Linked DNA regions of Homo sapiens. The gene in region 2 interacts genetically with the main gene of each other region. Each region holds a gene or a part of one and is shown on either strand. Other genes may lie near its edges.

The links. A genetic interaction does not mean that the proteins touch.
Region 1: changes in LIG1 (region 2) and CRYBB1 together harm fitness more than expected from each alone (negative genetic interaction), as found in Homo sapiens cells (one large-scale study listed by BioGRID).

Annotation. Positions count from the first base shown.
Region 1 is NC_000022.11:26,611,528-26,615,027, forward strand, and holds part of CRYBB1 (beta-crystallin B1), read right to left. Parts: intron 664-3,500; coding exon 545-663; intron 1-544. UniProt on the Homo sapiens protein: Crystallins are the dominant structural components of the vertebrate eye lens.
Region 2 is NC_000019.10:48,135,845-48,139,344, reverse strand, and holds part of LIG1 (DNA ligase 1), read left to right. Parts: intron 1-1,656; coding exon 1,657-1,823; intron 1,824-2,260; coding exon 2,261-2,337; intron 2,338-3,219; coding exon 3,220-3,311; intron 3,312-3,500.

The DNA of each region.
Region 1 (3,500 bases), on a different chromosome or scaffold from region 2:
GCAGTGGCGCAATCTCGGCTCACTGCAAGCTCCGCTTCCCGGGTTCACGCCATTCTCCTGCCTCAGCCTCCCGAGTAGCTGGGACTACAGGCGCCCGCCACCACGCCCGGCTAATTTTTTGTATTTTTAGTAGAGACGGGGTTTCACCTTGTTAGCCAGGATGGTCTCGATCTCCTGACCTCGTGATCCACCCGCCTCGGCCTCCCAAAGTGCTGGGATTACAGGCGTGAGCCACCGCGCCCGGCCGGGCTAGAGTTTTTGCTATAGTAGAAGCAGCATTTCTCCAGAGCCCAGAACCATGGCTTACTGCCAGTGTGATCTTATGCTAATTGGATCACCTCTCCGAGCCTCAGTTTCCTCATCCGTAAAATGAGATTGAGAACAATTCCTCCCTCTTCAGTTTGATATGAGGATTGGACATAATGTATGTGCCAGGAGTACGAACGGCCGCAGGCACAGAGCAGATGCTGGAGAAATGGCAGCTACTGTTGTGTGGTCATTTTACTGTGGCAGAGAGTGTGCCCCTCCGCCGCCCAGTACTCACGGTCCCGCGGAGACAATGATGCTGCGCACACGGTCGAAGCCACGGTCTGCCAGATTTGAGCACTCCCCCGAGAATTCTGCTCGACGGCCCTGGAAGTTTTCCAGTTCGAAGACCACCAGCTGCAGGAGAGAAGCCCCCATGCCAAGGGCAGAGTGAGGGGGGAGTCAAAAATTCATTAAGTATCTACATAAATAAAAGCCAGCAGTGCAGGAGTCACATAAAAGTGTGATGAGCCACAGTTTGTGAAATGATCCTGTCCTCCCATCCCCCAATTCTTTACTGATTTTTGTTTTTTGTTTGTTTGTTTGTTTTTCTGAGTCTCACTCTGTCGCCCCAGCTGAAGTTCAGTGGCGCAATCATGGCTCACTGCAACCTCCGCCTCCCAGGCTCAAGCGATCCTCCCACCTCAGCCTCCGAGTAGTTGAGATTACAGGCACCCACCACCATGCCTGGCTATTTTTTGTAGAGACAGGATTTTGCCATGTTGCTCAGGCTGGTCTCGAATTCCTGAGCTCAAATGATTGGCCTGCCTTGGCTTCCCAAAGTGTTGGGATTACAGGCATGAGCCATTGCACCTGGCCTCATGCCCTAATTCTGAAGCTAAGATCTGCGCCATCATTAGGAACTTATGAACCTCCCTTTCAGGCCTTTCTTTGTGCTATTCCTCCTGCCTGGAATGCCTTCTCCACCACACATATCCAGCTTGGAGCTCCCACTGCCTAACTGAAGTTCCCTAATACGCATTCCAGCTCGTTATTCTGTTTTAGGCTCAGGTGCCACCTTCTCCAGGAAGCCTTCTCTGATTGCCCCTTCCTCCATCGGCCTTGGTTGAGCATCCCCCACTGTCCTCTCCCCATTAGCAGCACAACTAACCCACCACACAGTCACTGCTGTTTTGCTTTGGGGTCTCCCTCTCTCTCTGCACTCCCTCTCTCCCATTACCCAGCCCCTCCAAAGACCAAGGACTCCTCCAGGGCAGGGCCTGAGGTTGATCAATTTCTGTATCTCCAGCCCCAGCCCCAGTACCTGCCACAGAGCTGATGCTCAGGAGACACTTGCAAATCCAACCCTCCACAACATAGGGGAAAACTTGAGCTAATCTTCTCTCCTCACTAAGCCTCATGTTTGGTTCCTTGTCCACTTGCTGTTCCAAGTTGGGACAACGTTGCCATTCACATGGACCAAGGCACAATTTTCTGCCTTCTTTGAGCCTCAGTTTCCCCAGCTGTAAGAGGAGGGGAGGTTCATATAACCATGACCCAGCACTTCCACTTCTACCTTTGGTTGCCCAAGAGAAACTCCTGTATGTGTGCCCCGGGATGTTGCGGGAAGTCAGGGACCCCAAACGGAGGAACTGGCTGAAGCCATGGCAGAAGAACGTGGATTGTGAAGATTTCATGGACATTTATTAGTTCCCCAAATTAATACTTTTGTAATTTCTTATGCCTGTCTTTACTGCAATCTGTAAACATAAATTGTAAAGATTTCATGGACACTTATCACTTCCCCAATCAATACCCTTGTGCTTTCCTATGCCTGTCTTTACTTTAATCTCTTAATCCTGTCAGCTGAGGAGGATGTATGTCGCCTCAGGACCGTGTGATAATTGCATTAACTGCACAAATTGTACAGCATGTGTGTTTGAGCAATATGAAATGTGGGCACCTTAAAAAAGAACAGGATAACAGCAATTGTTCAGGGAATAAGAGAGATAACCTTAAACTCTGACCGCCAGTGAGCCGGGCAGAACAGAGCCATATTTCTCTTCTTTCAAAAGCAAATGGGAGAAATATCGCTGAATTCTTTTTCTCAGCATGGAACATCCCTGAGAAAGAGAATGCGCACCTGGGGTTAGGTCTCTAAACTGGCCCCCCTGGGCGTGGTCGTCTCTTATGGTCGACGCTGCAGAGATGAGATAGACTCCAGTCTCCCATAGCTCTCCCAGGCTTATTAGGAAGAGGAAATTCCTGCCTAATAAATTTTGGCCAGACCGGTTGATCTCAAAACCCTGTCTCCTGATAAGATGTTATCAATGACAATGGTGCCCAAAACTTCATTAGCAATTTTAATTTTGCCCCGGTCCTGTGATCCTGTGATCTCTCCCTGCCTCCACTTGCCCTGTGATATTCTATTACCTTGTAAAGTACTTGATGTCTGTGACCCACACCTATTCTCACACTCCCTCCCCTTTTGAAACTCCCTAATAAAAACTTGCTGGTTTTTGCAGCTTGTGGGGCATCACGGAACCTACTGACATGTGATGTCTCCCCCGGACGCCCAGCTTTACAATTTTTCTCTTTTGTACTCTGTCCCTTTATTTCTCAAGCTGGCCGACGCTTAGGAAAAATAGAAAAGAATCTATGTGAATATCGGGGCAGGTTCCCCGATACCAGGAGACAGGGATAAGAACGTCCAAGCCATGCTGTTCACGAGAGCAAAGCTAGCAACCACTGAAATCGTGCTTAGCAGGAAAGAGATGGTCACGCTCTGAAATATCAGGCAGCAGCCAGAATGAATGGCCGGCAGTCATGCGCAACAATATGGATGGATATTAGGGATCTCATAGTAAGTGAAAAGTACAAAGAAAAGCCCAGAATAATCACATTGCATATTTCAATAAATTAAAAACAAGTAAATCGGCCAGTTGCGGTGGCTCACACCTATAATTCCAGCACTTGGGGAGGCGGAGGCTAGGAGTTCGAGACCAGCCTGGATAATATGGCAAAACCCGTCTCATAATTCGGTCTCAAAATAAATGAATAAATAAAACAAGTAAATAAATATACATGTGTATGTGTGTATACATTTTTAAAGGAATAATGCATAAAATTGTATACAAAAGCAAGCAAGCAGATTACAGACACAGGTTGAGGATAGGACAGTATTTCCTGGAGTTGGGGAGGAAAATGATGGACTCAAGGGAGACACCTTAGAGTTAGGTAGAAAGTTTTTAACC
Region 2 (3,500 bases):
GGAGGAATGCCTCCAGGATCTCCCTGGGTGACTGGATGGATGACAAAGCCGTCGGCAGCTTGGGACCCTGGTGAGGGGCAGGCACCTGCAGGGGGCATTAATCACCCCAGCGTGGGGCAGGCATGAGCAACCTCTATCTGTGGGCCCCCAGGGCCATCCAGGAAGTTTGGAAACGGGTCTGAGGCTCACCAGGTCTGGCTCAGAGCCCAGGGTTCGGGCTGGTCAGTGTAGGAGGGATGACCACCCACTGGTGGGTTCTCATCCGCCTGGGGAGAGGATGTGCTGGGAGCACTGGAGCTGGCTTAGGGCCATGGGCACCAACATTTAGGGAAGGCAGGGGTTTCAGGCTTTCATGAGAGGACAGAGGGACTGAGAAAGGTTGACTTGGATCAGGAAAGAGTTACGGGCTTATGGGAGCCAGAGGAGATGAGACTCAAGATTTTCTCACTCATTCACTCAAGATGTGTTTCGGGAGCACTGACGTCATACCAGACCCAGCACACACGGGGTCGGTTAAGAATACTCTGAGCTGCAGGTAACAGAAAACCCAACTACATTGGCTTGGACAAAGAAGGATCTGTTTTTCTCACAAAAGAAGTTGCAGATGCTGGCTTTCCTGCCCAACAATCCATGGCAGCTGGGGCCTCTTCCACTGTCTCATGCCTCCACCCTTGATGGGTCGTGTTCACACTCACACTGCTCTCCGTGCCGCCTTGTGGCCCCCGTGGCTGTCCAAGTCCCGGGTTTGTTGTGAGTTGTTGGCCACTTTGGAGAATCCCGTCCCCTTTGATGTGTGATTCGATAACATCCCATTGGTGAGGCTCACACTGTCGGCTCTCCCATTTGTGGCAGTTTCGCTTCAGGCGCGAGGCCCACCTTCATGTGCTCTGTGCCGCGGCTGAGCATCTGTGGACTGAAACGCGCACTTGTTCGTTCATTACGGATTGCTTTCCCTTTCATTCTTTTCTGTGTTAGGGTTAGGGCGTTATCTCGATAGGTGTAGGCAGGTTATGTTATCTCCACATTTTATTTCAGACCAGAAAAGAGGTGACACACAGTATCTGGTGACAAGGGTGTGTTGGTTCTGATAGGTTGAGAGCTGCTTGTCACAGCTGTCACCGTGACTTGAGGCTCCATCTCCCCAGCTCTTACACCCAGGCGCCCATGGGACCCAGCTCTGGACAGTAAGTGGGGCCAGAGCACATCCCACGTGTGTAAGCTGGTGGCTCCAAAACAAGCCGAAGGGTCTTTGGTCACTGCCAGAGATGTTCATGACCCGCCAGAGGAAAGGGTCCCTTGGCCTTCTCTGCTCTGTCCACACTCACTTCCCTAGTGACCTTGTCCCGCCTGTGGCTTTAAATCCCATCCGCGCCCTGATGACACCGGCCCAGATGTCTCCCCTGAGTGTGGTCATGCTCGTTCATCCACCGCTTTCCTGGCTCCACGTGCATGTTTGCTGACTTCCTACAGCCAGCGTGGCTGGGGGCACGTTCCCCAAGCCATTTCTACCAAGTGGGTGAGCGTTAGACACAGGGAGGTGCAGGGACTCGCCACAAGCACACACAGCTGGAGAAAATTCATCCAGGCCGCGAGAGAAGGGAGACACGCAGCCACAACTGTCACCCTCGACACCCCCACCCGCGCTCTCCCCTGAAGGTCGGCAGCTGGAGTCCGTCCGGGCTGAGGCAGCCGAGAAAGGCGACGTGGGGCTGGTGGCCGAGAACAGCCGCAGCACCCAGAGGCTCATGCTGCCACCACCTCCGCTCACTGCCTCCGGGGTCTTCAGCAAGTTCCGCGACATCGCCAGGCTCACTGGCAGTGCTGTGAGTGGGGCGGGCCGCTCATCCCGGACCCCAGACATCTTGGGGACCTGAGGCCACGCGTGTGTCAGGAAGGCTTCTGGGTAGACCATCAGCTGGGTCGCATCAGTCCTTCTCATGGGGTGCACAGCTTCCTCTCCTCCTTCCTGCACCCAATCCTAGGGGAGTCTCCTCTTCAGAGTCTAGCAGACCTAATGCCATGGCTGCCACATGACAGGACTCAGTAAATACTTCCTGGATAAAGGGAGAGGGAGGCAAGGAGGAGAGCTAGCTCGTTCTTACTGCCCTAAGAGTGGGCGGCCATGGGAGCTGGGACATGGGGATGGGGTGAGGGAAGGAGGGCAGGTATTCCAAAATGCAGGGCAGCAGCACGGCTGGTGGGGTGGAGGTGTGGTCCCTGCCTTCACCAGGCACTGACGGCTCTTCCCCTGACTCTCCAGTCCACAGCCAAGAAGATAGACATCATCAAAGGCCTCTTTGTGGCCTGCCGCCACTCAGAAGCCCGGTTCATCGCTAGGTAAGCGTGTGGGCCTGTGAGGCTACAGAGGGGGACTGCAGGCTCGGAGGTGAAAGGAGGGAGGGACTGGCAGCTGGAATCATCACAAATGCCCTGACCATCCTTGGATGAGAAAAGCATGAGCAGGAGGCCCAGCCCCTAAAGAGTGGGAAGGGACACCATTTCCTTTCACAGGCCAGCTTCTGTCCCTTGGTAGTGCTGTCTAGAGAAGGCCCCTGGGCCCCTGTGGGTGAAGCATGCTGTGATTGATTGGTGAGGTCTGCCTCGGCTTGGGCGCGGGCCCTGCAGCAGGAAGCCAGGGTTTGTTTGCCATGACAGTGAGAGCAAATCCATTGAGGGCTCACATCATGGAGCATTTCTTGGGAGCCCTGCCCTGTGCCCCGTGCCTTACCTCATCAGTTCCTACCAGCAACTCTGTGAGACTGGTCTTGTTACCCTCACCTCCAGTTTATAGAAGGGGAAATGGAGACATGGGGAGGCAAACTAAGCCACTTGTCTCCTGCCACTGGCTCAAAGCAAGGACCATGCTGGGGTCCTGACCATTACAGTCACCAGGGCGGGCGCCAGGCTCAGTTCTCTCCCTGACTCATCCTCCTCAAGCCTCGCCAACCCCTCAGGGCAGCTGAGATGGGAGGTGCTGGTGCACCTACTTGTGCCCCTCCCCAGTCTATGCTAGTGGGCAGGATCATTACTGCCTGGCTCAGTTTCCTCATCTGTCACATGGGGCTGTGTGATATCTGGGGTCCCTTCCAGGCTCTGAAGATTCTTCTGGTTTTTGAGGAGAGGGTCTACATACATCAAGGTCGAGGAGATCAGAGAAGGGAGGAGGCAAGATTGGGGAGGTGCAGACAAGCCCCCTTCCCTGGCCTGCTCTCTCCCCAGGTCCCTGAGCGGACGGCTGCGCCTTGGGCTGGCAGAGCAGTCGGTGCTGGCTGCCCTCTCCCAGGCAGTGAGCCTCACGCCCCCGGGCCAAGGTGAGCTCCTGTGGCCCGTCTCTGCATCCCTCGCTGGAGTTACCTCAGGCTTCCCCCCTCCTCTTCAGAGGCCCATGCCCGCCCCTTCCCCAGCGGGCCCCTGCCATACCAGGCTCCTCTCTCCTGGGTGGGGGGGAGGGGGCGTCTTGGGCCGCGGCATCTGCATTCCTTGCCATACAGCAAACCACC